Homo sapiens: one gene and its partners. The protein of the gene in region 1 purifies or fractionates together with the protein of each later gene. This does not show direct contact. Each region holds a gene or a part of one and is shown in the gene's direction. Other genes may lie near its edges. The genes, in order: MAPK4, TLCD3A, DNAJC10, FAR1, HKDC1, PFKP and SFXN4.

What was found.
Region 2: the proteins of MAPK4 (region 1) and TLCD3A purify together in Homo sapiens (affinity purification with mass spectrometry; one large-scale study listed by BioGRID and IntAct). This does not show direct contact.
Region 3: the proteins of MAPK4 (region 1) and DNAJC10 purify together in Homo sapiens (affinity purification with mass spectrometry; one large-scale study listed by BioGRID and IntAct). This does not show direct contact.
Region 4: the proteins of MAPK4 (region 1) and FAR1 purify together in Homo sapiens (affinity purification with mass spectrometry; one large-scale study listed by BioGRID and IntAct). This does not show direct contact.
Region 5: the proteins of MAPK4 (region 1) and HKDC1 purify together in Homo sapiens (affinity purification with mass spectrometry; one large-scale study listed by BioGRID and IntAct). This does not show direct contact.
Region 6: the proteins of MAPK4 (region 1) and PFKP purify together in Homo sapiens (affinity purification with mass spectrometry; 2 studies listed by BioGRID and IntAct, with this or other methods). This does not show direct contact.
Region 7: the proteins of MAPK4 (region 1) and SFXN4 purify together in Homo sapiens (affinity purification with mass spectrometry; one large-scale study listed by BioGRID and IntAct). This does not show direct contact.

Annotation. Positions count from the first base shown.
Region 1 is NC_000018.10:50,661,087-50,664,586, forward strand, and holds part of MAPK4 (mitogen-activated protein kinase 4), read left to right. Parts: intron 1-1,820; exon of another isoform or gene 1,821-2,002; 5' UTR 2,003-2,872; coding exon 2,873-3,418; intron 3,419-3,500. UniProt on the Homo sapiens protein: Atypical MAPK protein. Phosphorylates microtubule-associated protein 2 (MAP2) and MAPKAPK5.
Region 2 is NC_000017.11:739,096-742,595, forward strand, and holds part of TLCD3A (TLC domain-containing protein 3A), read left to right. Parts: intron 1-1,409; coding exon 1,410-1,505; intron 1,506-2,205; coding exon 2,206-2,475; 3' UTR 2,476-3,500.
Region 3 is NC_000002.12:182,714,861-182,719,056, forward strand, and holds the start of DNAJC10 (dnaJ homolog subfamily C member 10 isoform 1 precursor), read left to right. Parts: upstream 1-1,396; 5' UTR 1,397-1,623; intron 1,624-1,830; coding exon of another isoform or gene 1,831-1,904; exon of another isoform or gene 1,905-1,937; intron 1,938-2,155; 5' UTR 2,156-2,212; intron 2,213-3,080; 5' UTR 3,081-3,226; coding exon 3,227-3,430; intron 3,431-4,196. UniProt on the Homo sapiens protein: Endoplasmic reticulum disulfide reductase involved both in the correct folding of proteins and degradation of misfolded proteins.
Region 4 is NC_000011.10:13,667,300-13,671,467, forward strand, and holds the start of FAR1 (fatty acyl-CoA reductase 1), read left to right. Parts: upstream 1-1,368; 5' UTR 1,369-1,507; intron 1,508-4,168. UniProt on the Homo sapiens protein: Catalyzes the reduction of saturated and unsaturated C16 or C18 fatty acyl-CoA to fatty alcohols. It plays an essential role in the production of ether lipids/plasmalogens which synthesis requires fatty alcohols.
Region 5 is NC_000010.11:69,265,332-69,268,052, forward strand, and holds the end of HKDC1 (hexokinase HKDC1), read left to right. Parts: intron 1-253; coding exon 254-487; intron 488-1,278; coding exon 1,279-1,426; 3' UTR 1,427-2,221; downstream 2,222-2,721. UniProt on the Homo sapiens protein: Catalyzes the phosphorylation of hexose to hexose 6-phosphate, although at very low level compared to other hexokinases. Has low glucose phosphorylating activity compared to other hexokinases. Involved in glucose homeostasis and hepatic lipid accumulation.
Region 6 is NC_000010.11:3,070,548-3,074,047, forward strand, and holds part of PFKP (ATP-dependent 6-phosphofructokinase, platelet type), read left to right. Parts: intron 1-3,500. UniProt on the Homo sapiens protein: Catalyzes the phosphorylation of D-fructose 6-phosphate to fructose 1,6-bisphosphate by ATP, the first committing step of glycolysis.
Region 7 is NC_000010.11:119,152,215-119,155,714, reverse strand, and holds part of SFXN4 (sideroflexin-4), read left to right. Parts: intron 1-537; coding exon 538-653; intron 654-3,500. UniProt on the Homo sapiens protein: Mitochondrial amino-acid transporter. Does not act as a serine transporter: not able to mediate transport of serine into mitochondria.

The DNA of each region.
Region 1 (3,500 bases):
CCTCTCTCTGTTTACAACCCAGCAGAAGCTGGAAAGGAAGAAGGCTTAAGCATGTCTCTTCCTAAAAAAAATAATGATATGCAATTGCCTCTTTTTGCTATGCCCTTGGGAGTCAGACCAGGCTTGTGGGGAGAAAGAGAAGCTTCAGTGTAGTTGCCATTACATGACTTGGGCAGCAGGAGTCAAGGAGGGAGAGAATGGAGAGCTGTGGAGGCTCTTTGATTCCCCTGAGTTAGGTATCCAGGCCAACTTCGCTAGCACAGGCCATAGAATCTGGTTCACTGGGTGCTCCCAGCACTGTCTCTTAGTGGCTGGGCATCCTCAAACAGAGTGAATGGTATTCATTTATCCATTCATCAGATGGATATTGACCCTATGTATGCTGAAAGCACTAAGCTGGTGCTCTCCAAGCCTTGGTATCCTCACCTGTAAAGTTAGAACTGGAATCAGAATCGATGTTTCTCAGTGGAAGTGCTGTTGGCATTCAGGGGTGGAGGGGTGGATGTCAGTGGATGTGCTCTGGGCATTTGGGCATGGAGGTGGGAATGCTCGGTAGAATGGTTAGCAAATCCGGCCCTACCCATTAAATACCAGTAATGACTCCCAGTCAAATAAGGTGAGGAGGGCAGTACCATCTCCAGATAAGGACCACGGGCCTTGTTTTCTTAGATTTCTTCCCAATCTGAAATTCTGTAAGTCTATGGTTGTTTTGTTCCTGGACCCAGTAAAAACATGCAGAACAGAATTACCGAAGATCTGACAAATTATCAGAATCTTGAGTACATCTTATTCAAATGTAAGGGAATGTTTAACTAAACAGCAACAATAGGTAACATCTGTTAAGCAATTACTATGTTCTAGACCCTTGGCAAATTTCCTTCATTAGAAGTCTTTACAGGCGATCTGATTGTTTACTATTTCAGATCATCTGTGTCCCCTAATTTGCCCCCTTAATTTCAGAGCATTGAGTTGACTATCGTTTTTGCTTCATTTATCTTTGCAGAGTTGTGCGAAGTTCAGATAGCAAAGTGTCTCTATAGGAGGCCCTGCGATATGAGAATAAAGCAGCAGTCTGCCAAGTTCATGCCTTTGTGTTGGATACAGTCTTCTTTCTTTGTGTGTCTGTGGTCTTTATGAACTTAGAAAACCTGCCAGTCTCTTAGACGCTATGATATTACCTTACTTCAGAGATCTGAATTTACATGTCTAGTTTTGCAGGGTTTTTCCTCCCCACTTAGTTCCTATACCTGTAATTTGAGTCAACAGCCACCAGAGGGCAGGGACAGTGAAGTTTAGATTTGACCCATTGCTTTGAAGAGCGAGGTCACATTGTCAAAAAGAATACAGCTCACCATGCCAGTTTTGATATAGCACTGGGAACTCTGCACCCTGGTTTCTGGGCAAAGAGAGTCCTTTTATTATAGGTGGCAACATTATTTCCTTGTAATTTGGTACATGGGCTTCTTCAACTTACGTGGAAAGCAAGAGATACAAATGTCATTACATCTTAGTCCCTGTGAAAGCCTCTTAAAATGTTCAAAGACATTTGTAAAAGAAGGAAGAAAAGGAACCCAAGTGCAAAAACACGAGTATCGATCCTTTGTTTTCTGTCTGCAACTCATTGCTTTCTACTCTCACCCTTCCTAGCTAGCGCTGATGTGTGTGTTTGGAGAGCATAAAACAAATTAATTTTCCGAAGGTCAGAAGGGATAATTCTCCACCGTAATTTGCACATGTTAAACTTGGGGGAGCAGGCACTGACATAAGAGGCACAGCATCTGATGGTCTTATCAAATCAATCCATCTTCTGTCTCTTCCAGGGGAGTGCTACGCACAGCAGGAGGGTGGCTGGGCAGTGCAAAGCCCCGGAATCCCCTGAGCAAGCAGTGTTTCAGCTGGCTGGACAGATCAAATAACACTTGGGCTGGTTAACAAAAGACGCAAGTGGGAAGGTGTTGGAAGCCGGAGTGTGGAAATTTACCCAACGTTATTTCTTTGACAGGGAAGGAGACTTGGTCTGAAAGATGCCACATTCCTGCAGCCTCTCTTGGTGCAGTGGAATACAGTCTTGGGCGAGGTGGCGTGGATGAGCTGGTGAAAGAGGATGCTGCCCACATCCAAAGGCTCCAGAGGATCCTGGCCTGGCAGCTGAGCTCCCCTGCATTTGGAACCTCAGGCGTAACTTGGTGTAGAGCTCATGAAAGGTGCTTGTGTTTCTCCAGCTTTTTTCACCAGTGCTTACCAGACTGGCTCAGGTTTTGGAATCTAAGGTGAGCTGGTAGAAACAGGAGAGGTAGAAAGAAGCCCCTGGATGCCTCCAGAATTCATTGATGGGATCCCTGCATACTGCTTGGAACACAGAAAGAGGCTGTGACACAGCTGAGCTTTGGAGCATCTTAAGGAGCTCAGCTCAGCAAACAACTCTTGCATTTCAGCCAGAAAGAGCCTCTTGTAACAAAGTATTCAAAGGGGAGAGTTTCTGCATCTTTTACTTTGCAGTCCACTATGGTAGAAAACTTGACATTCCATAGATAATGATACTGGGTTTTCTTTCCAAGATGCCAGCTTTAAAAGAAATATGAGCCATTCTAAGCTTTAAGAAGGGTTCAGGAAACACAGGAATTAGTAGACAGCCCTCCCAATGCAGGTTAAGACGACAGCCTGCGCCCCCAACTAGCACAGCTCAGCGAGCATGACCATATGCCATTCTCGTCTCCAGAGAGCTGGTGGCAGTGACCTCACTAGGAGAAAACACATCCCTCAGCCGTGGGACTTGACAGAATGAGGTGCGCGAGGGAGGCCGCTAGCCGAGACTTGGCCTTTCCTGACTGCCCCTGTGTTACCTGGGCAGCTCCAGATCACTGAGCCCACAATGGCTGAGAAGGGTGACTGCATCGCCAGTGTCTATGGGTATGACCTCGGTGGGCGCTTTGTTGACTTCCAACCCCTGGGCTTCGGTGTCAATGGTTTGGTGCTGTCGGCCGTGGACAGCCGGGCCTGCCGGAAGGTCGCTGTGAAGAAGATTGCCCTGAGCGATGCCCGCAGCATGAAGCACGCGCTCCGAGAGATCAAGATCATTCGGCGCCTGGACCACGACAACATCGTCAAAGTGTACGAGGTGCTCGGTCCCAAGGGCACTGACCTGCAGGGTGAGCTGTTCAAGTTCAGCGTGGCGTACATCGTCCAGGAGTACATGGAGACCGACCTGGCACGCCTGCTGGAGCAGGGCACGCTGGCAGAAGAGCATGCCAAGCTGTTCATGTACCAGCTGCTCCGCGGGCTCAAGTACATCCACTCCGCCAACGTGCTGCACAGGGACCTGAAGCCCGCCAACATCTTCATCAGCACAGAGGACCTCGTGCTCAAGATTGGGGATTTCGGGTTGGCAAGGATCGTTGATCAGCATTACTCCCACAAGGTATGTCTGGCTGGAATGGCGGATACTGGTGGTCCACAGAATCCCCAAGAATACTTGCAGCATTCCCAAGCTATTCCTAGCT
Region 2 (3,500 bases), on another chromosome or scaffold:
CACCCAACAAAGAAAAGCAATGGGAAAGCTGAGGGGAAATTCCTCACTCTTGAGTGCCTGGCCAGGGGAAGGCATGCGTTTTTTTTTTTAATTATTCATTTATTTAGTTATTCATTTTTTTGAGATGGCGTTTTGCTCTTGTTGCCCAGGCTGGAGTGCAATGGCTCACTGCAACCTCTGCCTCCCGGGTTCAAGTGATTCTCCTGCCTCAGCCTTCCAAGCAGCTGGGTTTACAGATGCACGCCACCATGCCTGGCTAATTTTTATATTTTTATTAGAGACGGGGTTTCACCATATTGGTCAGGCTGATTTCAAACTCCTGACCTCAGGTGATCCACCTGCCTCAGCCTCCCAAAGTGCTGGGATTACAGGCGTGAGCCACTGCTCTTGGCCGGCATGTAGTTTTATTTTATTTTTTAAATAAAGAGATGGGGGTCTCCTTATGAGGCCCAGGCTGATCTTGAACTCCTGGGCTCAAGGGATCCTCCCGTCTCAGCCTCCCAAAGTGCTGGGATTATAGGCGTGAGCCACCGCGCCCTGCCAGGCATGTGATTTAAAAGTTCATAGCTTGCTAAATATTAGAAGCTATTAGTCTTATGCTGTAGATGAAGAAACTGGGGCTCTAAGAGTATTCTTATATCTCTCAGTGGTACTAAGTGGCAGAGCTGATATTTTACCATGCTTACTGCTTTCTTGAAAAAAGAGGCCGGGCGAGGTGGCTCATGCCTGTAATCCCAGTCAGAAGTTCGAGACCAGCCTGGCCAACATGGTGAAACCCCATCTCTACTAAAAATACAAAAATTAGCCGGGTGTGATGCTGTACATCTGTAGTTCCAGGTACTCAGGAGCCTGAGGCAGGAGAGTCATTTGAACCCGGGAGGCAGAGGTTGCAGTGAGCTGAGATCACGCCATTGCTCTCCAGCCTGGGCAACAAGAACAAAACTCCGTCTCAAAAAATAAAAATAAAATAAATAAATAAGGGTAACGTGCATTAAATTCTTTAAGAAGTGTCTGGGACCTACCATCTAGGAACCAGAACATCTAGGGTGCTTTGAGACCCTAACATCTAGCACAGGGCCTGGCACATTTTGTTGAACCAAACAGGCTGAGTGTCTTGGCATGACTAAGTTCGATACACAAAAGTAGGCTTGCAGCCTTCCTTCCGGCTGTCATCAAAATTCAGAGCTTGGTGTGGGACGCCGTCATCCTGTCTGAATTTGCCTCTGGATCCTAGGGCTTGGACCATCAAAGTGCTGTTGCCACGGAAGCAGCGGTACAGTAGTCTGCGCTTGCCTATTGAGCGTCCTTTGCCCGTCACAGTTACCCTTTTCAGTAGCCCTCGTTGGAATTTTCCTTCTGGTGGTTTCTTAACCTCCACTTACTTCCCCTTTTCGTTTCGTCATCCGCAGAGGCTCCGGGGAGACCTTGGGGACTTCTTTGTCGGCTGCATCTTCACGGCAGAACTGAGCACTCCGTTTGTGTCGCTGGGCAGGGTTCTGATTCAGGCATGTATGAATGAAATGACAGAGAGTGTGAGGGTTCTGATTCAGGCATGTATGAATGAAATGACAGAGAGAGTGAGGGTTCTGATTCAGGCATGTATGAATGAATGGCAGAGAGAGTGAAGGTTCTGATTCAGGCATGTATGAATGAATGGCAGAGAGAGTGAGGGTTCTGATTCAGGCATGCATGAATGAAATGGCAGAAAGAGTGTGGGAGGGAGTGGATTCTGCTTTTCCTTCGGAGATGGTGGGTGTGGAGAAATCCCTAGTGCCAGGAGAGTGGGATGAGAGATCCTTCAACAGCCTTAAAGGTCAGCTGGTCATCTCAGCCAGTGGGGGTGAAATTGTAGGTTTGATCTAAGTTTGATAGTTTGATACAGCTCATTCTATTTTTTCCCTGGTTACACACATACTTTAATCCACGGTTCCTGTACTCCTGTCAGCTGGGTGGCCTGGGTCAAATTCAAAATCACTATTGGAGAAAATGAGGTTATTTGCACATCTCAATATGATAGTGTTCAAGAATGTCTTCTCCAAGTGTTAGAAAACTAGACAAACGTCTGGGCGCCAGGGAATCTGACAGCCAAGGTCTTGATGAGCACCTGCACCTGTGTGGCATTTACTGTGGTGGGACTTGGGCCCGTCGCTCCCTGATGCCCAGCTTCTTGGTGACCTTACCTTTTTCCTTCCTCTTCTATTGCAGCTAAAGCAGCAGCACACCCTTCTGTACAAGGTGAATGGAATCCTCACGCTGGCCACCTTCCTTTCCTGCCGGATCCTTCTCTTCCCCTTCATGTACTGGTCCTATGGCCGCCAGCAGGGACTAAGCCTGCTCCAAGTACCCTTCAGCATCCCATTCTACTGCAACGTGGCCAATGCCTTCCTCGTAGCTCCTCAGATCTACTGGTTCTGTCTGCTGTGCAGGAAGGCAGTCCGGCTCTTTGACACTCCCCAAGCCAAAAAGGATGGCTAAATGCTCCTGGGAGTCAGGCGCAGCCTCACACCAGCTGCCTCCTCCACTCAGCATTCCATGGACCAAATTGTGCCCTGGGTAGCCTCAGACTTTGGGTATTGATAAGCCGATGGATTTGAGTTTTTCTAAAGAATATTCATATTACCTCCTTCTTCTAACTTGCCCTATTTGCAAAAGCACTTTTGTAGTAACAACTATTGGGTCCTGTCAGACCTCCACGGACAGCAAAGTGGTTTTAATGCAAGCCCAAGGATCCTTCTTAAGGTCTTATCTCAAGAGCTCTGGGAGGTGGAAGCATGGGGTGGGATCGGTGGACCAGGGTGGTAAGTGTCTGCACATCTGCCTGTCCCTGTATCAGCGGCTACCCACCTTCCAAACCACTCAGGACAGTACCCGTGGCACTGGGCCCGCAGAAGCAAGGGATGACTTGGTTCTTGGAAGTAATGTCGTCTTGTGACATTGGCCTGGGACAATCATTGTGGGTAGGTAGTTATTGATCGTTTACTAGATAACCCATTGGTTCTTTGCCTCATCCTCTCATCCATGGGTCAGAGTTGAATTCTTATGTCTATAGACTTCCAATCAGAAGTCTCACTGGTGGGGCTGGGGGTGGGGGCAGGCAGGAGGCATGGATGGGAACCTGAGTAGGTAGTGTGGCCAAGAGATCAGCACAACCTTTGCAGGCTGACTTGCTAAGTCTGACAGTGACAAACTTGTGAGCTTACTGCAGTCAGTCACAGAGGCTGTTCTTTTTCACACACCCCTTCATGCCCGGCTTTCCCCATATCCACATGCAGAGGGCGAGCTCATAAAACTACAGGGAAGCGTGAAATGATGGCTTTGGTAGCTGTTTACTGGGTAACCCCACTGTGACACTGTCCTTTTCATGTGATGTGGAAACCTACTTCTGTCCTCCAAACCATGAAATGTGTCATCTAGACTGCAGAGTACTTGAGTGCTTTGCCTCCCGATATGCCAGAGCTTGTGGTCCAAAGCCCATTCCTGTGTGTCCGTCCTGCCATTTA
Region 3 (4,196 bases), on another chromosome or scaffold:
CCACCTCTTAAAGCATTTACCCTATTTGTCTAACATTCTCCTGTTCTTTCTCCAGTTTTGTATGCTTTGCATCCTCTCTCCAATAGCTGCCAGGATGATCTAAAATACAATCTCAGTCTCTTTTTTAAAAGCTTCCTCATCACCTAAGAGATAGAAATCTATGTCTTCATCTTGGTATAAAAACCTGTCTGTGATCTGGTCCCTGCTTCATCTTCCAGTTTTCTGTTTGTTTTTCAATTTACTTTAAGATTTTGTTACAGTGTGTAACAAAATGGTTACACACTGTGTCATAATGCTTAACATCATAGTCTCTGAAGCCAGGTTGCTTAGATGTGAATCCTAGCTCTCAAATATTTGCCTCAGTTTCCTCAAATGGGAAATAGATATAGGAGCCACTATCTTGTAAGATTATTTGGAGGACTAAATGAGTTACTACATGTGTGCTTAGACCAGTTCCTGAGACATATTAACTACTATTACATCAGGCTGCTTCTAATGTTTGCCTTTGTTCATTCTACTTCCTCTTCTTTCCTACCAAGTATTAGCTTAGCCATAGATCCTGTGTAGTTTTCCAAGTTTTTAGAAGCTGACACTTGATTTACTCCCCGAAACTGTTACCAATCACAACTTATTTCATGTTAGGGTTGATGTTATAAGCAGGTATCCTCTAGGCTCGGTTTTCTCTTTTAAATATAGAAAATGTAGTAAATATAACCACTTCAATTGTTATATTGCTGTGGGACAAAATGCAGTTCCTGTACCATAGCAGTAGGAGATCAAGGTAAGAGAGAACAACGATAACTCCCCAGTTTCTAGCTTGTATGACTCAGAATCCAGAAAATATTGTAGAAGTCTCAAATGCTTGTTGATACACACGCTTACACAAAATTGTAAATGTTTTAATTTCCTTCAAGTTTCCTACTGCCTCTTCAGTCCGCTAGCCTGATACTGCAATCAGTGTCGCTTCAGGCAACTTCTCCTTTCTCCGCCAAATTTCGCCTTTCGGTCTCACCCACCCATCACCCAGACAAATCCTCCAAAGCTCCGTCTTCCCTTTAAAAGACTCTCAGGGAACTCAACCCCAAAACCCACCCTCTGGGTTTCCCCGTCACCCTGGCAACGGAAGCAGGAAGAGGCGGGCTTCGCCATCCACCCTCCCCGCCCGCGGCAGGCGCCGGCCGCATTGGTGAGGGGGCGCGGGCTGCTTGGCCAGGGCAGTTCCCTCAGCTCCGGGTTGGAGCCGGAGCCGGAGCCGGATCCCGCGCACACCGCCACGTCAACCTAAACCTACACCGCCCTCTCCACCCCACCGCCGCAGCGCCCGCTGGGCCCGCAGCGGGTCTCCCCAGGCAGCGTCCTCCACGCCTTTCCCACAATGCTCCGCGCCAGGCCCCGCCCCGGCTCGCCGTGGAGACCGGCGCGTGAGGAACCTACCGGTACCGGCCGCGCGCTGGTAGTCGCCGGTGTGGCTGCACCTCACCAATCCCGTGCGCCGCGGCTGGGCCGTCGGAGAGTGCGTGTGCTTCTCTCCTGCACGCGGTGCTTGGGCTCGGCCAGGCGGGGTCCGCCGCCAGGGTTTGAGGATGGGGGAGTAGCTACAGGAAGCGACCCCGCGATGGCAAGGTGGGCATGGGCCCGGGGCTAGGGCTTTGCTGGAGCCGGTGGTGGCCTGGGCCCTCCGGTCAGGGAGGGGCGGAATGGCTGAGCGCCTGAACCTCCCTTCCTGTGCGCTCTTAAGACCTGGATATTGTGTTCTCGCTCCCCACCTTCCTCCTCCCTGTTATTCACACCACCCTTCCTCTGCCCAGCGATTCCCTCTCAGTTACTTACACTTTCTCCCTAAGTCCGACCTGAGACTTCAGACACCAGCAACACTTAACAGCCCTGTTCCCCCGTGTCTTCATCTTTACCCCTCTCCCCTCTCCCACTCTGCAGTGATGGCAATGCGAAAGCTTGCGCCTTGCATTTACCTGGCGCTTCCACCTGCCCGGTAGCTCGGGCCACGGGCAGTTCGGCCACACCCACGCTGAGAACAACCCCTGGGCGAGAAACATCTTATCCCAAAGTGTTGATTGAGACTATGCCCTCTCTTTTTCTGATGGTTGTTTTCTTGTTTGGATACTTGTTAATCTCTACATCATTATATTTTTCAAAGGTATATTTTTGTGGAATGAAAAGGAAGTATTAGAAATGAGCTGAAGACCATTCACAGGTAAAGAGAAAAATTTTTAAATATACATTTAGGATTAAATGAAAAACAGAAATGAGGTGCGAGGAGCGTTAGATTTTTCAAAGCATTACGATCTCTTTGGAACTAAAATATAGTGGTTGAAATGTGATATGATGAAGTAATGATTGTTTTTGCCCTGCAGAGAGTATGTCTAAATAACCGATTCCCTTCTCTTTTTGTGTTTTGTTTCTACTTACACCAAACATGAACTTTGCAATAAAATTACACTGGTAACTTACAATTGTTTTTCTACTATTTTTAAAAAATGGCCTCTACTTAAATTCAGTATAAGCACCTTCTGAGGAAACTCCGGGAAGAAGATCGACTGCTGTGTAGATTGTCTATTATAACAATATATTTCACTGTCATTTCTGGTAGGGTTATATGAGAAGTAAAAAACCCTATGTTTCCTTCTAGTCCCTCCCAAGGACATTTCCTACAAGTGAATTCTGCTGAAAATGAAAATTAGACAGCTTTAGGAGGTAAAGAAGTAGCTAAAAGGAAGAGGTATTACAGGCAACGCTATAACTGGGTAGAAAGAGGAAGCACCTGTAGCTCATTGCCACCTTTGTGTTCTGATGCTCGTCAGAGGTCTTTTCTCAGTGTATAAATTGCTGAGGGTGTGTGTGCAAGCTACTTACTACCACTCATGACCTTTTTTCTGCTATCTTCAGTGATTTCACAAATCTAGCTACATGGATGTAGAAAGAGTGAAAAATAGAACCTGGGGCATTCACACTGATTTGCCATTTAATGGAGATTGTATTGCTGACCATGTTCTGTGATAAATAAATTGTGCTATTATTGTTTAGTTCAAAATGTATTTTAACTGCCTGCTTTTCTTTCTTAGATTAATATTTTTGGGGACAGATTTGTGATGCTTGATTCACCCTTGAAGTAATGTAGACAGAAGTTCTCAAATTTGCATATTACATCAACTGGAACCAGCAGTGAATCTTAATGTTCACTTAAATCAGAACTTGCATAAGAAAGAGAATGGGAGTCTGGTTAAATAAAGATGACTATATCAGAGACTTGAAAAGGATCATTCTCTGTTTTCTGATAGTGTATATGGCCATTTTAGTGGGCACAGATCAGGATTTTTACAGTTTACTTGGAGTGTCCAAAACTGCAAGCAGTAGAGAAATAAGACAAGCTTTCAAGAAATTGGCATTGAAGTTACATCCTGATAAAAACCCGGTAGGTAAACGTTTGTTTTTAAAAATATTTGATTATATTTTTGGTACATTTTGATATTTATTTAAATTGCTTTAAATGATCAAATGCTTAAGAATAATCATATGTCAAAATTATAATTCAACTTGTATGCTAGAAACAAAAGCACCAAAATGTTCTGGATTATTTAGGATCCCGTGAAGGAATGTCAGTACCAAAAATTCAGTTCCCTCTTAATTTGTAGACGATTTTCCAACAATTCTATTAAAGACATTAACCCCAAAACAAACGATAATATCCGTGAAGTAGTTGAAGTAGTTTTCTTATTAAAGTAGGTTAAGATCAAGTGTTTTAGAACAGGAACAAAAATATTTTTTTAAAACTCAGAGGGTATGACTTGCTAAAAATAGAAGTAATAGCTAATAATAGCATGTTTTAACTTTGACTGTTTTCTTCTGTGTATGCACAAGTCCACAAACCAGAGTTAGAAAGTTTTATAAATTAATACTTCACAGCAGCTGAATATAATGCCAGTCATAAATATTTATGTACACATTAATGTAAATCTTTCAAAACTAAACTCATTTTAATTTTTATGGTGTTTTTGTAATTTATTTGATTATTTCTTAGTGAGATTTAGCGTTCATCATTAACAAGAAGACATAGTTATAATTTTCTCTTTTCTAGGTAGAAGTTTTAAAATAGGATTATTTTCATTGCATAAAGCTGAGCAAGAGAAACAATATTTCTTTAAATATTGTTTAGTTGATTATCTTTTCCTAAGATCCAC
Region 4 (4,168 bases), on another chromosome or scaffold:
ACATCCCTGAGGGTAAGCAAGTGTGTTAGCTTTGTGTTCTGTGCCCTCCTCCAGAAATGACAGTACTTGCTGCAAGACTGTGAGCTCATCGAGGCAGAAGCCATGGCATTCAAATTAGTTTCCTGAGCCAGAACTTAACATCTGCCACAAAGTAGGCAGTTCAGTGAGCTTTTGTAGTTTCCAACTGGATGCAGCACTATGACTGCTTTTAGCTACTAACAGGGCCAGGCACTGAAACAAGCTCTAAATCCCCACAGAAAAATCACTCTGAGCCATCCATCCCTAAATACCAACCTGTGCATGCTATTCACCGTGCCAAGAGCGTTCACTCATTTTTGCTTCTCACAAATCTTTTTTTTTCTTCCTATGGCTTGCATGTTTTGAATGACAGCTAAATCCTAATGCGGACTGTTTATACAATGGAGTCCCACGGAGCCCAAAGATTGTGGTAATATTATTACAGAATTCTCATGATCCTTTTATTATTTTTTAAAAATGAGCCGTATGAATGTGGTAATACTATTAAGTGTCCGGCTCGATGAATTCCTCCATGTGTACACAGCCCGGAACGACCACCAGGATCAAGACGCAATGTTTCCAGCTTTCCATAGGTTCCCTCGTGCCCCACCCCTCAGAAGTAAACGTTATTCTAACTCCTATCACTACCGGTAAGTTTTGTAGGGAATTATTTTGGAGGAAGTGGAAGGTGGAATGAATGGGCCCACAGTCCCCTGGGACTGGGCGAGACCCGTGGAGGCTCCAGGGGTCCGTAGAGCTCTTCGCTCTCACCGACCCGGGCCACACCCGCCAAGCTGGTAGTTCTCCGAACGGATCCCTCACGCCCAGCAATGGCCGGAGGGCCCCCGGGCCCCACCATAATAGCGCTAAGCACGCCACAATGGCAGCCCCGCTGTCTCCCGCGCGGGCCTCGCTGCGTGCTCCCAACCTTGGGAGTTGGCGCCCCTCCCGCGCGACGGACAGCCGGGCGTGGCCCTGGGCGCGACCCGACAGGACGCCAGCAGCCGGCGGGGGCGCTCCAGGACTCGAGATGTGGGGCGCGGGCCCATTGGCTGAGCATTCCCCCGCGAGCCTCCCGGCCGCAGGGCCCACCTCCCGGCCCTCTCTCCGCGCCCCCATTGGCCGTTCGCGTTCCGCGGGCGTCCGCTCCCGCCCCACTCCCGCCCGGAGGGAAACCGGGTTGGGGGTGAGAGGCTAAAGCAGGGAGGAGGATGACTGGTCCTGCGGATAAGGGTGTGCGCGAGAGCCAATCAAAAGCGGATGTCGAAAAGAGGCGCCGCTCCAGCCAGTCACGTCGCGAGGTGCGGTCGGGGCCGGCTGACGCGACTGCGGGCCTCAGCCAATGGGCGTGCCACTGCCCGTCCGCTCTTCAGCAGCCGGTCGCGGGCGGTGGAAAAGCGAGTGAAGAGAGCGCGACGGCGGCGGCGGCGGCGGCGCAGCTATTGCTGGACGGCCAGTGGGAGAGCGAGGCCTGAGCCTCTGCGTCTAGGTGAGAAGGGGGTGCGCCAGCGGGAGCGGCCGGGCTGCGGGCTCCTCCTCGCCTGGCTCGGGAAGTGGTTGCGGGAGCTCGGGCTGCAGGCCTGGCCGAGGCGGGGGCGCCGACCAGCCGTCCCGCCCCCGCCCCCGCCCGGGTACGCCCAGAAGTGAGGGCGCCCGCCTCACCCCGGGTGGTCTCTGCCCCTCTTTGCCCCGCCGCCGCCCTTCACAGGGCCGGGACCGCGTGGGGGACGTACGGTGGGGCCTGGTTTGCAGCCGCGGAGCCCGGGGAGCCGCCTGGGGTGGGAGGCCGCTAGAGGTGGCGAAGGTGGGGCGGGGTGGTTAGCCGAGCAGCGGGCTCCGCGTGCTCGCGGGAGGGTAGCGGCAAAGGGAGGCCTAGTGATTGCAGGATTCCGGGTCTGGGGAGGAAGAAAGTGGTGGGAAATAGGTGATGCTCAGAAAAGGGTGCTGAGGGAGAAGGCGCGGGGCCGGGGAGTGTGGTTGGCCTATTAGAAGTAAGGATTGATAGGGCCTGGGTGGAGATCAGCTGGGAGTGAAGGGGGGACGGGCTTGGGTTTTGAAGGTGAAGGTCTCTGGAGAACTGGGGACACGTGGATCTGGAGTAAGAGGCACCTACTGAAACCGGAAGGTGGCTGAGAAGGTTTTATGTGAGGTGTGGACGGGAGGCTATTGGACTAGAAGGCATTAGTTGGTCTGTTAGGACAAAGTATACAAGCAGCAAACGCGGTAGATTTATGTGTGGTAGGTGAAGGCTGTGAATCTTTTATGAGTAGTTGAGCAAGAACAGTTGTCTGATTCTGCGGTGTCGGAGAGTGGAGGGTCTCAGGTAGTGTCTTGGTCAGGTTTGAAGGTTAATTTACTGCTAGTGGAGGGCCAAATACTCAAAAGAGTTTTTAATTCTCACTACTGGGGCTGATCCTCCTCCTACACTCCACCCCTCCTGCCATCCCTGTGACAGTTCATCTCGTTTTGCCTCAGCAGCACAAGAACTCACTCCCTCCGAAGTAATGGCATACATATTGTTTGCTTTTGACTAGATGGCAGTCAGGAATCCCTTAATTCTTTATGTTAAAAAAAAAAGTGTTGGTTTAAAGACAACATCAGAAGATACTCTCAGAAAATCTGCCCTCCAGGGGAGTTTCTCAGCTGTCATGTTGGGCATGTGTAATATAGCATAAAAATGATGCAAGATCTCTTACAGTAATACAAGTGAGAATTAACGTATAAGTACAATCCTGATGTATTTTTTTCAAATTAATTTAAAAAGTAAACAGAGACAGGGTTTGCTGTCGCCCAGGCTGGAGTGCAGTGGCGAGATCATAGCTCGTTCCAGCCTCAAACTCCTCGGCCCAAGAGATCTTTCCACCGTGGCCTCTCAAAGGCTTGGGATTACAGGGGTGAGCCACCCCACCCAGGCCCTGTTATTCCATACATTTTCCATAAAATTATTTTATAATTTTTGTTTTGTTTTGTTTTTATTTTATAAATTTGTGTGTGTGTGTCTCGCTTTGTTGCCCAGGCTGGAGTGCAGTGACGCGATCTTGGCTCGCTGCAACCTCCACCTCCCAGGTTCAAGTGATCAGCTCTTGCCTCAGCCTCTCGAGTAGTTGGGACTACAGAGACATGCCCCACCGCACCGGCTAATTTTTGTATTTTTAGTAGAGGCGGGGTTTCACCATATTGGCCAGGCTGGTCTCGAACCCCTGACTTCAAGAGATCCATCCGCCTCGGCCTCCCAAAGTGCTGGGATTACAGGCGTTAGCTGCCGCGCCGGCCAAAATTATTCCATAAATTTATCCATAAAAATTCCACATAAATTTTCTGGAGTTTGATTATGTATTAGGCTTGTTGGGAAATTTATTACCCTTGTGAAGAATTTTGTAGCTAAGTAGCTTGAGGGTTTTTTTTTTTTTTTCACTCAGGAAAGACATGGTATGTATGCATCACTGCTATTCTATTTGAAGCTTTTGGAATTTTTATTTATGGGGTGTGGATAGAGGCTGGAGGCAGAGACTGAGGTCAGAGAAGAGGTAGTAGAAAAGAAGGTGGCCCACTACCATATTTCCAGTGTATTTAAATGGGAGATAGAGTTTCTGTTTGAGGATAGGACAAAAGGTTTGTGAAGAGTTATAGAGTCAAGGACAGAAGCCAAAGAGAGCATTTGCTGTGTAACATGTTTGCTTGTTAACCAGATCAGCAAAGCATTTTAACTAATGGACCATTATTTATGATCTAGAAACAATTTTGTGAAAGCGATTTCTTAGTGATGCTGTTTACTGTGATCACATTTGCCCTTAGTATAACAATACCTAAGTGCTGAGGCGACTTGCAGTAGAGAAGTAATCTGAGTGGCGTGGAGTGAATCAGGGAAGGTTTCCTGAAAGAGGTGAGTTTTGAGCCATCATGTGAACTAGAAGTTGGGATGTGGGTTATTACAAGACATGAGGATGACATTCCAGTAGTTTGTACTTGGTATAAGCAACTGTGGACAAGAGTGACAAATTAAAAATGGTTTTTAAGGATGATTGAAGATTCGAATGAAGATTTAGGGGTTTGGAAATCAACCAAGGCTATGTTGCAGCTTAGCTGATAAATAATTTTTTATGTTGGTTAGGAGAGAAAATTAACAGTTGATAATGGATTGGAGATAGGT
Region 5 (2,721 bases), on another chromosome or scaffold:
AGATCACAGATATGAACATGCTGAACACCAGAGGCATTCACACTTTATTTTTTAAAGTTGATGGAACTTCCAGGGGTGGTGGACCTTCTTGAGTCTCGGCTTCTAAGGCATTCTGCTCCAGCCTAGCCATTGCCTGGGTCAATTTCTCCTCCCTCCTGTAAGGGCATCTAAGAATGGGGAGGCTGTGGGTCACACTGGGCACATCCCGGGGTCCTGGGAAGCAGGTCCTGACTCCCTGCTCTATTGCCTGCAGCGATCGGCTGGCCCTTCTCCAGGTCAGGAGGATTCTGCAGCAGCTGGGCCTGGACAGCACGTGTGAGGACAGCATCGTGGTGAAGGAGGTGTGCGGAGCCGTGTCCCGGCGGGCGGCCCAGCTCTGCGGTGCTGGCCTGGCCGCTATAGTGGAAAAAAGGAGAGAAGACCAGGGGCTAGAGCACCTGAGGATCACTGTGGGTGTGGACGGCACCCTGTACAAGCTGCACCCTCAGTGAGTGCCCACAAGAGGCGTGGCGGGTGGGGCTGGGGAGGGCTGGCGGCCAAGTGTGGACTTGGCATAGCCTCCTGAACTGCGGCATGGGAAGATGCATCCCCGTCCTTTTATGGGAAAGGAGTGCTGTGTGGTCAAGTCACCTATTCAATCTGACAGACAAGGTGTGAGCCCTGGTGCCTCTGCTACCTGGTAATACGATGTGGGAATGTTAGCCGGCCTCTCTAAACCCCAGGTTCCTCATCCACAAAAGGCCAGCACTAATAATCCCTACCACATAGGGCTAAATGTGTGAGGTTGAAATGAGTTAGCACATGTAAAGTGCTTCACACGGGGCTCAAGAAATGTAAGTTGGCTGAGTGCAGTGGCTCATGCCTGTAATGGCAGACGGGAGGATCACTTGAGCCCAGGAGTTTGAGACCAGCCTGGGCAACACAGGGAGACTCCATTTCCACAAACATAAATAAATAAAATACAAAATGAACAAAAATTACAAATATTAGCTGGGCGTGATAGTGCATACCTGTGGTCCCAGCTACATGGGAGGCTGAGCTGGGGGGCTTGAGCCTGGGAACTCGAGGCTGCAGTGGGCTGTGATTGCACAACTGCAGTCTACACCCTGGGCAACAGAGTGAGACCATGTCTAAAAAAAAAAAAAAATTAGAAGAAGCTGTTTAGAGCCTTGAAAAGCAAACCAAAGGGAAGAAGCTAAAGAAATTAGATTATGATCATTTATAAATGTTCTGATTCTACATGGAAGGGCTGATGATGTTTCTTTCTCTTTTTCATAGCTTTTCTAGAATATTGCAGGAAACTGTGAAGGAACTAGCCCCTCGATGTGATGTGACATTCATGCTGTCAGAAGATGGCAGTGGAAAAGGGGCAGCACTGATCACTGCTGTGGCCAAGAGGTTACAGCAGGCACAGAAGGAGAACTAGGAACCCCTGGGATTGGACCTGATGCATCTTGGATACTGAACAGCTTTTCCTCTGGCAGATCAGTTGGTCAGAGACCAATGGGCACCCTCCTGGCTGACCTCACCTTCTGGATGGCCGAAAGAGAACCCCAGGTTCTCGGGTACTCTTAGTATCTTGTACTGGATTTGCAGTGACATTACATGACATCTCTATTTGGTATATTTGGGCCAAAATGGGCCAACTTATGAAATCAAAGTGTCTGTCCTGAGAGATCCCCTTTCAACACATTGTTCAGGTGAGGCTTGAGCTGTCAATTCTCTATGGCTTTCAGTCTTGTGGCTGCGGGACTTGGAAATATATAGAATCTGCCCATGTGGCTGGCAGGCTGTTTCCCCATTGGGATGCTTAAGCCATCTCTTATAGGGGATTGGACCCTGTACTTGTGGATGAACATTGGAGAGCAAGAGGAACTCACGTTATGAACTAGGGGGATCTCATCTAACTTGTCCTTAACTTGCCATGTTGACTTCAAACCTATTAAGAGAACAAAGACTTTGAAGTATCCAGCCCCAGGGTGCAGAGAGGTTGATTGCCAGGGAGCACTGCAGGAATCATTGCATGCTTAAAGCGAGTTATGTCAGCACCCTGTAGGATTTTGTTCCTTATTAAGTGTGTGCCATGTGGTGGGGTGCTGTCTGGGGCATCTGTTTTTCATTTTGCCTGTGGTTTGTGTTGCAGGTGTTGATAGTTGTTTTAAGGATTGTTAGGTATAGGAAATCCAGTAAATTAATAAAAAAATTTTGATTTTCCAATAAACTTTGCATGAAGTGGTGATATTTCTTCTGGGAGGCTCACTTGGTAATACCATGCTTTGTTGATGGAATAAGGGATGCAGAGTCAGAAGGAGCTTGAGCATTTTTCTCGAGTCCAAACTTCCTACCAACAGGGGTAATATATGGAATATCTTCTACAATATCCTTAACAGATTATCCAGATGTCTTTAGAATACTTCCAGTAACTGAGCATTTCCCACATGATCCTACAGCTCTTGCTTTTGAACGGCTGGAGTGGACTGGAAGTCCTTCTGACTTCTGAGCTCGGTTCCTCCCATACACCCCACTGATCTCCATTCTACCCTGCAGAACTATGTGTAATAGGCCTGTCCCTGACCATTTCTCCAGTGGACTTCCTCTCTCTCTCCTCTCTTCCCCACTTTACCTGAACTGCCTGTGCCTTTCTGTTCTGCCACATAGTTATCTGTATGAGTTTCACATCTGGCCAGATAGATTGTAAACTCTTTGTCAAACACATTCTTG
Region 6 (3,500 bases), on another chromosome or scaffold:
TTTTGTATTCTAAGAGCTTTACACTTCTTATCTCCAAGCCTAAATACATGATCCCAAGAGAGGCGTGTCCTCATTTTGGAAGTGGGGAGAAAGACTCAGAAAGAAAAGTAAGTTAGGTAAGGGCATGAGGTGCATACGTGATTGTGATAGGAGCAAAACAGATCTTAATTCCAAATATTGTACTCTCCCGTAGACCACGAAGAGTACTTATGTCTGGCTGTGTCACCCAGGCCAGAGTGTAGTGGTGCCATCATAGCTCACTGCAGCCTCAAACTCCTGGGCTCAAGTGATCCTCCTGCCTCAACCTTCTGAGTAGCTGGGAAGACAGGAATGCACCATCATGACCAGCTAATTATTATTATTATTATTATTATTATTTTTGTAGAGACAGGATCTCACTATGCTGCCGAGACTGGCCTTGAACTCCTGGCCTCCTGTAGTGATCCTCCTGCCTTGGCCTCCCAAAGAGCTGGGACTACAGACATGAGCCATTGTGTCAGGCCTCCACCATCTCCACCATGTTTTTCAGGGACCTTTCTTGGTGAAGCTGCTTTATCTAGTTAATGCTCAAAAGTGAGCAAAACCCGATTTGCCCAAAATTACACAGATATTCTTTGGGTGGCTTTGTTAGGGGAACGGAAAATGCCTTTTTATAGTGATAGGAGTCCAGGTGGCAAGAACGATATTATGTGATGGGCTGCTTTTTCTTCTCTCAGTAGAGTGTATATTATTTAATTATAAGATACAATTGAAAATCTCTTTCTCTTTTCTATATTCCCGACTCCCCGGGCCTTGAATGAAGAAAGTATTTCTCAGGCTGTTTTTGTTTGTTTGTTTGTTTGTTTTTTCTACTTGCTTGGATATCTTCTGTCTCAGGCTGTTTTTTTTTTTTTTTTTTTTTTCTTTCTCTTCTTCTGCCTCTTTATGTATCTTCTGTTGTCCCAAGACATGTCTGGAAACTTAAATTGATTTTCACTCAATCTGAAATAAGCTCCATAACTCTGAATGGCGGACTTACCATGACTAAGTCCCCACTGCCACAGAACACTGTGCCACACACCAAGAGTGACTCATTGTCTTAGTCACAGGTTGTGGCTTCTGAAGGTCCTGGTGCCTGGTGGAGCTGAGTGTACTGGGAAGTCCAGGTGCATCCTTAGGGTAGGCTGCATGTGAAAGCTGCGTCCTTTTTGCCTGTGGTGAGGTGAATATCAATACAGTATTTATAGAAAGTCCACATAAATTGAGTAAGTACAAACCTTTCCAATCCTAGTGAGAATAACTAGCATTAATGACTCTTTGTTATGTGGCAGGGCCTCAGTGATCCTGGGCAATGACTTATCCCTATTTTACACATGAGCAAGGGGCGCCTGAGTTGCACCACCTTCCCTGAGTTCACAGAGCTCCGTGGTGGGGCCGGGCCCTGTGGCTGCAGCAGGGATGTTCAGGGCTGCGCGTACCTGCGTCTTCACTGGTGTCTTTCCCGCGCCCAGCACCATGCCTGGCGCTTCGCAGGAATGCAAGTGTTTGCTGCCTGCCTCCTGCCTGGAATCTCCACTGAGGAGCAGGAAACCAGGGGTTCTAGCTGTCTTCTTCGTCCATGAAGTCCTTTAGAGGAATTCAACCCTCTCTAATTAAAAGTATCCAATATCCTCAGGTCAATATGTGTAAACTGTTAAGACTTCAAGATTAGAACCTTAAAACCGAAGTCAGAAGTGTGAGGTTTCCATTGGCTGGACGTGCATTAGGTCAATGACACACATATTTATTGGACACCAGGCTTGAGCCCCACATGGGCACCTTTGGTGTCTGAAGCAATGCTGGCTTCGGAGCCCAGTAGGGTGGAAGGGGAAACTGAGAACAGCGCCATTTTGCCTCCCACGGCTCTGGGCCCGTTACCTTCCTGTGTACATACATTATTTGATGGGATCTTTTCAGTGTAAAGTGCAGTAATTAATTTTGCAAAAATTACTGGGTCTGGGAGGCAGTGTGTTGGAATGATGGTGTCACCATGTGGCACAGTGGGAGATTTGTGTAATGGCATCATTTTCTGTGAATGCAGACCGTTTTGTGTGCCATACTCGAATGACCCTTCGAAGCTAGACATTTTGTCATCTTTCGAAAGAAGCATGTTTTCCCCCTTGGTTACAGAAAGCTAAAAGCTTTTGATACAGGACTCCAACCTTTTATCAGGGAGAATTAGGCTCTTTAAATAATTAGGGCTCTACCAATCTGATGGGCCATCAGAAGCAATTAAAATTAGAAAGGTGAAGATACGGTAACGTAGTCAGGACAAACATCAGGATACCAGATTGCACGTTCACAATGGCATTTCGGCTAAGAAAGTGCGGGTGAATATAGAACAGAGGGCCGTATGTCAGTAATTGGGTTCCGTTTTGTGTTTCTTTTCCACAAGCCCTTTCTGGTGTTGTGTTTTTGTTTATTAGAGAGTAGCTGCCCAAAGGCTACAGTTTCCCTCCCCACTCCTCGGTTCTCTCCGTCTTCACCCCCAACTCCCAGTCCTGTGTTTGGAATTACAGTCATTGTGCTTGTCAGGATGTAAGAGGCAGCCAGACACATGGCAGACCAGAGCACTGAGAGGCAGAGACATTTATAGGTCCTAGCCCTGGTCCTGCTGTCTGGGTCAGCAGGGTGCTGAGTGCTGAGTGCTGAGATAGGGTCTTGATGTTTTCCTCTGCAGAATGGAGGCATCACTCAGTCTCTGTCTCCTCTCCCTGTCTCTGTCTTCCCTCCCCTCTTCCCTAACACATATCCACAGTGAAAGTGTTCAGGAGGAAAAGAGAATAGGCTGGACTGTGCTGGGACCCCCAACCCCAGGGCCCGTGTGCTATTTTCCCAGCCTCCGTGTGCCCAGAGATGCCTAGGGGAGCCTGCGGAGGTGTAGATCCTGACTGTGTGGGTCTGAGTGAGGCTCCGACTCTCACGGGGAGGGCACCGGTGCTGCTGGACCCCCTGGGGCCAGTGGAGCGGTTTGCAAATCGGGCAGATCAGCTTCTCCACTTCTCCAGGTTTCCCCAATGTGAGATGCTCCCAGGAGTCCCATGGGATTGTTTTCTGACTTTGACCAGGATTTTGACAGAGAAGATTCATTAATATAGGACCCCTTGTCTAAACGTACATATGTAAATGATCTGATCCGAAGTTTCCTGAATGGAAAATGATTGAAAGGGTGGCATGCAGTAGCCTCGGGGAGTCAGTCCTTCATATCTTTTCAGCTGTGTCTTACTACGATTAAGATTTTATTTCTGTGTGTGTGTGTGTTTTTTTTGTTTGTTTGTTTGTTTGTTTTTGAGACGGGATCTTGCCCTCTTGCCCAGCCTGGAGTGCAGTGGCTTGATGTCGGCTCACTGCAACCTCCGCCTCCTGAGTTCAAGCGATTTTCCTGTCCCAGCCTCCCAAGTAGCTGGGATTACAGGCATGCGCCACCATGCTCACCTGATCTTTTTTGTATCGTTAGTAGAGATGGGTTTCACCGTGTTGGT
Region 7 (3,500 bases), on another chromosome or scaffold:
TTGAGACCAGCCTGACCAACATGATGAAACCCCGTCTCTACTAAAAATACAAAAATTAGCCGGGCGTGGTGGGGCATGCCTGTAATGCCAGCTACTCTGGAGGCTGAGGCAGGAGAATTGCTTGAACCCGGGAGGCGGAGGTTGCAGTGAGCTGAGATCACACCATTGCACTCCAGCCTGGGCAACAAGAGTGAAACTCTGTCTGAAAAAAAAAACTTAAGCAAAGACGAGGGAGGAATATGTTTCCAAGATCCCAGGGTTTCTCCTAGAATCCGGTAAGGAAGCAGGGGTGCTGGAAGCTGGTCCCAGGCTGTGGTCAGGATCCAAGACTGAGTGGCCAGCAGTTCTTAGCCTACTTCCACAGCCCCAGGAGAGCACTTGGTTGGCCCAGCCTATGGCAGGTGTCCACCTGAGGGTCAAGAAAGGCCAGCTGTCAGAGAAAGAGGCTTGCAGGGGGCAGACACCCAAAGAGATGTTCCTTTGCTGGAACAAGACTCACCCCCGTCTTGGGTGTTCTTTACTTCTTTACATCTACAGTGCAAGCCAGTGGAATGAATGTCTACATGTCCCGAAGTCTTGAATCCATTAAGGGGATTGCGGTCATGGACAAGGAAGGCAATGTCCTGGGTCATTCCAGAATTGCTGGGACAAAGGTAAGAGACAGGATGAAGCTATAGCTGCTTGCCTTTTGGGCAACGACTAGACTTTTCTGTTTGAAAGCCGGTGACAAATTCATGTCTGCCTTCAACCTTTCTTTACCCGTCTTTCCTTAGCATGCTGAGAGAGAAATTTCTCATTTTGCCCCCTGATAAGATGGGGCATTAGTCTGGGTTCTCTGGAGAAACAGAACCAATGGGATATATGTACATAATCTTTCTTTCTGAGACAGGGTCTTGCTCTGTCGCACTGGCCTGGAGTGCAATGGTGCAGTCTTGGCTCACTGCAACCTCTGCCTCCCTAACACAAGCGGTCCTCCCACCTCAGCCTCTCAAGTAGCTGGGACCACAGGCACACACCACTGCACCTGGCTTATTTTTGTATTTTTAATAGAGACGGGGTTTCACCATGTTGGCCAGGCTGGTCTCGAACTCCTGGCCTCAAGTGATCCACCCACCTCGGTCTCCCAAAGTGCTAGGATTACAGGCATGAGCCACCATGCCTGGCCCCCAATTCCTTTTTGAAATCTCTCAAAAGAAAAGCATGCACCTCTGTCTCCATTGTCCCTCCCATTCACTCCTGAGTTCAAGTGATCCTCCCACCGTGGCCTCCCAAAGTGCTGGGATTACAGGTGTGCACCACCGCACCTGGGCAGTACATGTCTATTAGGAGATTTGTTCTAAGGAATTGGCTTACACAATTGTGGGAATCTGCAGGGCAGGCCTGGAGGCTGGAAACTTGGACAGGAGCTGCTGCTACAGCCTTGAGACAGAATTTCTTCTTTGGGAAACCTCAGTTTTTGCCTATAAGGCCTCTAACTGATTGGATGAGGCCCACCCACATTGTGGAGGGTAACCTTCTTTTCTTTTTTTTTTTTTTTGAGACGGAGTCTTGCCCTGTCACCCAGGCTGGAGTGCAATGGCGTGATCTCAGCTCACTGCAACCTCCGCTTCCTGGGTTCAAGCGATTCTCCTCCCTCAGCCTCCTGAGTAGCTGGGATTACAGGTGCGTACCACCACGCCCAGCCAATTTTTGTATTTTTAGTAGAGGTGGGGTTTCACCGTATTGGCCAGGCTGGTCTCAAACTCCTGACCTCAGGTGTTCCGCCCGCCTCGGCCTCCCAACGTACGGGGATTACAGGTGTGAGCCACCGCGCCTGGTGGTAACCTGCTTTTCTTAAAGTGAGCTGATTGCAGACGTGCCCTGTGTCTGCAGAGTACCCCTACAGCAACAGCTAGATGAGTGCTGGATTAAATAACTGGGTACTGTTGCCATGGTGACCCGTGAGGCTGACTGCCACAGACAGGCATCTGACAAGTGCTGGGTACCTCTGAGAGTGAGATCCTATTCTTCAAATCCAATATCTGCCCTCCCAGTGTGTGCTGATTGGGGGCCACTCCCCTCCCAGCCTGCTCTGCACTTACAGAGGTCAGTGGACACCCCTTTCTGGGGTTAAAAGAGCCCCTGCTTCTCCCATTCAGCAGATGTCCTTATAGTCTTCATTGCTAAGGACTACTTTTGTCAAGAATGGACTTAGAACATTGAATTCTCTGATCCAAAACTCCTTTTCAAGGCCTCAATTCTGAATAATTTTTACTATTAGTTTCTTCTTTTTCTTCTTCTTTCTTTTTCTTTTCTTTCTTTTTTTTTTTTTTGAGACAGGGTCTCCTTCTGTCGCTGGAGTGCAATGGTGTGATCACGGCTCTACAGCCTCAACCTCCCAGGCTCAGGTGATTCTCTCACCTCAGCCTTCCAAGTAGCTGGGATTCTAAATATGCACCACCATGCCTGGCTCATGCTTGTGCTTTTTATAGACATGGGGTTTCGCCATGTTGCCCAGTCGTGTCTCAAACTCCTGAGCTCAAGTGATCTGCCCACCTTGGCCTCCCAAAGTGCTGGGATTGCAGGGGTGAGCCACTGGGCCTGGCCAAAGTATTCTTTTGTTCAGTTCAACACAGTGACTACTGAGTGCATTCAGCCGTGAGAACCTGGTATAGTCTATGGTCTTTTCATTTTGGGTGTGGACTTTTAAAATAATATGTTTTTAGCAGGTGAGATCTTTTTTGGTCCCTGTGAAATGACTTTAGCTGAAGACTTTAGTTGTTTGCAAATGACATATCAAGCAGAGTGGAACAGCCCTGATATGAAGTGAAGGGACTAACCGGGCTTCTGGCAGTGTGGGATCCAGAGGACTCCCTTAGCCAGCCAGGGTATGTCCTTCTACTGACCAGCATGTTGGTGGCAGGGAAGCTCAGAAAAGATGGTTGTTCATTCCATCGGTAAATACGTCATTATTCAGCTCACCAAACATATTACTTTAAATCCTATCACTGACTGACAAAGCTGAATTATAAACTATCAGATACATGCTAATGGTATTTCCACTAGACCATCTAGTAGCATAGCTCCTTACCTAAATGAATTATGACAGAGATAAAATAATTATAAGTAACAGAGAAATTGCTGCCAGTAAGAAAATAGGTCACTAGTTTGAAATGAAGGTTCTGGGCCTAACAAACCACCCGTAAGTTGGATCACTTGCAGTCGGTCAGGAGTTCGAGACCAGCCTGGCCAACATGGTGAAACCCTGTGTCTACTAAAAAGGCAAAAATTAGCTGGGCATGGTGGCGGGTGCCTGTAATCCCAGCTACTCGGGAGGCTGAGGCAGGAGAATTGCCTGAACCTGAGAGGTGGAGGTTGCAGTGAGCCGAAGTCGTGCCATTGCACTCCAGCCTGGGCGACAGAACAAGACCCCATCTCAAAAATAACAAACAAACAAAAACCACCTGGGACTGCATTTGCGCTTTCCCCTGGGGAAAAAAAAAAACGCCCGAAAGAGACAT